Regions from separate parts of the Homo sapiens genome. Here region 1 is linked to region 2. A link means that fine-mapping ties the variant in region 2 to the expression of a gene that starts in the linked region. Tissue or cell type: sun-exposed skin. Region 2 holds a variant in brackets; the other region holds the start of a gene. All regions are shown on one strand. Distances are from middle to middle.

The links. PIP is the estimated chance that this variant, and not a neighbour inherited with it, causes the effect.
Region 1: it holds the start of NALCN, and the variant in region 2 is fine-mapped to the expression of NALCN in sun-exposed skin (GTEx, PIP 0.96).

What each region holds. Positions count from the first base shown.
Region 1 is chr13:101,414,868-101,417,694 of GRCh38, reverse strand. NALCN (sodium leak channel, non-selective) reads left to right here and starts at 1,187. Exons shown (of 44, transcript NM_052867.4): 1 at 1,187-1,382. RefSeq lists enhancers at 1,285-1,835, 1,836-2,386.
Region 2 is chr13:101,440,897-101,443,723 of GRCh38, reverse strand. No RefSeq gene overlaps it. Among named protein-coding and RNA genes, the nearest start is that of ITGBL1, 10 kb to the left of the region's middle. The variant T/C (reference allele first, on the strand shown) is at 1,591.

The sequences.
Region 1 (2,827 bases), 26 kb after region 2:
GGAGTGATTTCATCATTTGTTTAAAACCTGGCTTTTGACACAGTTTTTCTGAAGTCTTTAGAAATTTGAAAAATTATCTCGCATGACTCTGTATTTCATGAAATACCAATATTTTAACATTTCCCTGTAAACAATAAAACGTACTAATATGGATTATGAATGTGAACAAATTGTGAATGGACTTTTTAAGAAAGTAGATTAATTAAATATCTGTAACCAGAAAATACATTTTTAAAATGTAGGTTTGTGTAGTTTTACTTCTATACCTTGCCACATAACATTTTGTGATAGACAAATGCTCTTTGTTTAGAATTTCTCTTGTAGAGAAAGCTTCATTCAGTTGTTTCTTTCCCTTTATTTATATGCCTGTGTGCATGATGTCTAAATCACTGGTCAGGAGTTCCCTGGGGATTTTCGTATCTGACTACATGGCAAGATTCCAGACCCAAAGTAAACCTTTCAGAGAGTGGGAATGAGTGGGAGGATGTCGCCCTGGGCATGGTGCTTAGGAGGCCAGATTTCCCTAAACCTGCTCTGCTGGGAGCCCTAGGAAGCCTCAGATGCAGTCTGCTGTCCAGGTATACTCACAGGGTATGGGGTGGGGGACTGTCAATTTCTGAATAGACTTTGTCTCATCCACACGACAACATATTTTAATTTTAAAGGCGAACGTCAACCTATTTAGAAAACTATAAGTGTGACTGATGCATTCATTATTTAATAACTCCGGGGTGAAACTTGAGGTGAACGGTTTCACCCTTTCATACTCAGGAATGGAACTAGTCCTCGGTACCGTGCACAGTCTGACCTCACGCTCGCACGCTGGGCTCCCGGCCTCCTGGCAGTGCACTTAAGTGTACCCCGCGTGTGCCCGGCGGACTCCCGTGCACACCGCCGCCGTGCTGTTGAGTACGAAAGACCCCCGAGAGGAGCTCGCAGATGAGAGCCTAGCTGTTGCTGTGAGACTGACTGCGGGTGGCAGCCGGCAAGAAGGAACTGCCAGTACCGACCCTGGCGCTCCCCACCAACTGCGGCGCAGCCTCCTCTGCGGTGCCCGCCCTTCGGCATCACTGCAGTCCCTGTAGCAAAGCTAACTTTAAAAATTTAAATAAAATAATAATTTTTTAAAGGCCCGAAAACTCCGGCTCCCACCCCTCCCCCAGCCTGCCCGGCGGCGGCGGCGCTCAGTGAGTGACACGGCGAGCGTGAGCCGCGGCCCCAGCCGGGCCGAGCGCGCTGCCTGAGCTGAGCCGCCGTAGGTGAGGGGCCCGCGTCCCCGCCCGCCCTGGGCGCCGCGCCTGGCACTGATCCTGCCGGTCGCCCACTGTCGCCGCCGCCGCCGCCCGCGGGCACCATGACAGCTCTGAGCGCTGGGGTTACAGGTTGGTCACCGCCGCCGGTGCCCGGGAGGCTGCGGCGCGGCCGGCTCCGTGCCCTGCGCCCGAGGCCCGCGATGCGCGCTCGTTAGTTCCTTGGCCGGTCCGGGCCAGGACGGCTCAGGGGCGCTGGGGCTGCGAGAGGGGCTGCTAGAGGGGCTGCGGGCGGGGGCCCCGCGCGGGGGAGGGGTGGGGAGGGGCGCCTCCACCCGAGAGCGGGGCGGTGGGGTCCTTGCCGGCCTGGCCGGGGCGCGGGAGCCGCGATGCGCCCTCCCTATTCCTGCGCGTGGGTGTCGGGGGCGCCTGCCGCGGGATGCCCCTGGGCTGGCTTGGGAAGCCCAGGGCCGGCGACACCTCGGGCCTGCCCCGCCTGGGCATCTAGCAGGTGTTGGGGGGCAGGTGGCTGAGGACGAGGCCACTGGGCATCACTACAGCGCTGCACCTGCCCCCTCGGCACCAGGGCCGCTGCCTGGGTAAACCTCTGGGCCAACGCGCGGGTGGGGAGGTGGGGGTGGGCAGCCTGGCTCCAGCAGGTCTCCGCGGGGGCTCCGCGGCCTTGCCCCACCCCCATGCTCCTGTGGATTGCTCCTTGCTAAATGTCCCTTATGATATTCATTGGCCTTGTTAAGCAGCCGTCATTAGGGTGGCTACACCGAACGCAAAACAGTGTCCTGCCAAGCAACACCATTTTGTCACTGAATCTTTAAGACACCAGCAAGGATGGCCTGGCTGGGATCCCTCTGGGGGCCCAGATCGCAGTCATTTTGCTGACTTAATGTTCCTCTTTCAGGATGGTGTGAGAATGCTGAACTCAGACCCTTAGTGCTTGAAATACCTTAGAATAAATCTTTCAGTTTCAGGTACAATTTTTCAGACACTGTATTATTAAGGATGTGTGAATACACGCTCACTTTCAGGCCTCAGAAGGTTTTACTCTTAATCTGGTGTTCGTGTGGTCATCAGCTAGGCCCGACTGCCCTGGTGGTGAAATGTGGGTTGAGGACCAGTGACCTTCGTGTTAGTAGTTGGTGGATAACACCTCTAATAGGGGATCAAAAATTAACAGGTGGCGATTTTGAAATATATATGTATGTATATATATATATATATGTGTGTGATTTGTATGTTCATAACTACAACTGTGATTTGATATGGCCTGGGAGAGGAGCGGTTTCACTATGGTAGTTACCCCTGAGGCAGATGCATCTCAGGACTGGCTTTTTAAATTCAAAGATAAGGTTTCCACAGTTCTAAATAAAAATCATGGCTTCCCAAACATCTGCAACGAGAAACATTTACTCCCTAACTGGTTGGCTGTCATTCTGCGTGCTTTTCTAGAGTCGATTTTTCGTTCTTCTGTAGTATACTTTGACCTAGCCACTGCTAAAACCAGACAGTGTGAAGACAAAATCCAGCTTTGGAGAAAAACTTAAAAAGTGAAAAGGTTCAGT
Region 2 (2,827 bases):
TAAATGAGAGTATTTCAAGCTTAATGGAAGGCAAAAATCAACGTGCGGTAATGAGATGAATTTAGGCAACTAAAATATAAAAACAAAGAAAATTCTATCTATTATGAAAAAACATCAAGAAAGCCAATCTACAGTTAGATAATAAACAGCACCTACTGAACTCTCCATATATGTGTGGCACTAATTGTTACAATCACTTACAGTCAAGTTTGAAGTTTAAAAAAAATCTCAATTTCACTCAAAACCTACTTGAATGATATTTTCACTCAAAGGCACCTTCCAGGTTTTCAAATAGTAAAAGGCACACCAAAGTTTTCAGGAAGGCTAAATATTCCCAGGCAGCAATAAAAATAAGTTTGCATTTCCAAGAAAAAGAGCTTCTCAGCTGAGCCAGATCTGTGGAATTAGAAAAAAAAAAAAGGTGTATAGTTAACATCTTTTCCAGATGTTAGCACAGAACCAGAGGGCTTTTTTTCCCTCCCACATAGCAAAAACACCTGGAAATATTAGGAGTCTCTGGGATGAGAAATATTCTTTCACTCTTCTGAATATTTCGGCCGTTCTAGTTGATGCTAGAAGGAAATTTTAGGAAAAAATTCTAGGAGTCATTTTCATTGACTTTAGGGGAAAAGAAACTTATCACATAAATATTATTCTTATGCCAATGAATAGATTTTTAATTCTTAAAGTGGTATTTAGCTGTTAATAAGCAGGAGGATGTAACTAGGCACACACGTAACTAGGCACACAAGTGGCATGGAGACTTAACCGTTCAGAGATGAATTGTGCTGCTGCCTTTGTAATCCAATAGCTGAAGACCTTGGCCAGGTTTCTTAACCTCCTAAATTCTGTTTCCACAAGGGCATGCTTGAAGGGAATATCAGTTTTCTCTAATGCTGAACTTCTATGATTATATTATGTATTTGTCCACAGTGTCTTCTAGTAATAGATGAAGAACAGATACACATACACACACATATGTACACGTGTGTATACAGACACACACGTATATTATACACACATAAACATATATACATATGTGTTTTATATATTCATATAATTTATATATAAATGTATATAAATATTTCATTTCCAACTCTAATATGTAAGTTTTATATGTATGTTTTATATTATATATTTAATATAATATAAAATATTATATATTTTAACATACAAAATATTTTATGTACTATTAAAATATATTACATAATTTATAATATACATTATATAAAATATATATTATGTATATTTAAAATTTTTTATTTTAATAGGTTTTTGGGAAACAGATGGTGTTTGGTTATATGAGTAAGTTCTTTAGTGGTGATTTGTGAGATTTTGGTGCACCCATCACCCAAGCAGTATCCACAGAACCCCATTTGTAGCCTTTTATCCCTCACCCCATTCCTACTCTTTTCCCCCAAGTTCCCAAAGTTTATTGTATCATTCTTATGCCTTTGCATCCTCATATCTTAGCCCCCAACTCATGAGTGAGAACATACGACATTTGGTTTTTCCTTCCTGGGTTACTTCACTTAGAATAATGCTCTCCCATCCAGGTTGCTGCAAGTGCCATTAATTCATTCCTTTTTG[T/C]GGCTAAGTAGTATTCCTTTTTATGGCTAAGTGTATATATATATATATATATATAATAGTTTCTTTATCCACTCATTGATTGATGGGCATTTGGGCTGGTTCCATATTTTTGCAATTGCGAATTGTGCTGCTATAAGCATGTATGTACAAGTATCTTTTTCTTATAATGACTTCTTTTCCTCAGGGTAGATACCCAGTAGTGTGACTGGTGGATCAAATGATAGTTCTACTTTTAGTTCTTTAAGGAATCTCCACACTGTTTTCCATATTGGTTGTACTAGTTTACATTCCCACCAGCAGTGTAAAAGTGTTCCTTGTTCACTGCATCCATGCCAACATCTATGATTTTTTGATTGTGGTCATTCTTGTGAAAGTAAGGTGGTATTGCATTGTGGTTTTGATTTGCATTTTCGTGATCATTAGTGATGTTGAGCATTTTTTCATATATTGGTTGGCCATTTGCATATCTTCTTTTGAGAATTGTCTGTTTACATCCTTAACCCAGTTTTGATGGGATTGTTTGTTTTTTTCTTGCTGATTTGTTTGAGAGCCTTGTAGATTCTGAATATGTGTCCTTTGTCAGATGTATAGATTGTGAAGATGTTTCTCCCACTCTGTGGGTTGTCTGTTTACTCTGCTGTTTCTTTTACCATGCAAAAGCTCTTTAGTTTAATTAAGTCCCACCTATTTATCTTTGTTTTTGTTCCATTTGCTTTGGGGTTCTTGGTCATTAAATCTTTGCCTAAGCCAATGTCTAGAAGGGTTTTTCTGATGTTATCTTCTAGAACTTTTATAGTTTCAGGTCTTAAATTTAAGTCCTTGATCCATGTTGAGTTGATTTTTATATAAGGTGAGAGATGAGGATCTGGCTTCATTCTCCTCCATGTGACTTGCCAATTATCCCAGCACCATTTGTTGAATAGGGTATCCTTTCTTGCTTTACGTTTTTGTTTGCTTTGTCGAAGATCAGTTGGCTGTAAGTATTTGGGTTTATTTCTATTCTGGTCCATTGGTCTGTGTGCCTATTTTTATAACAGTACCATGCTGTTTTGGTGACTATGGCCTTATAGTAGAGTTTGAAATCAGGTAATGTGATGCCTCTAGATTTGTTCTTTTTGCTTGGTCTTGCTTTGGTTATGTGGGCTCTTTCTTAGTTCCATATGAATTTTAGGATTTTTTTTTGTAGTTCTGTGAAGAACGATTGTAGCATTTTGATAGGAATTGCATTGAATTTGTA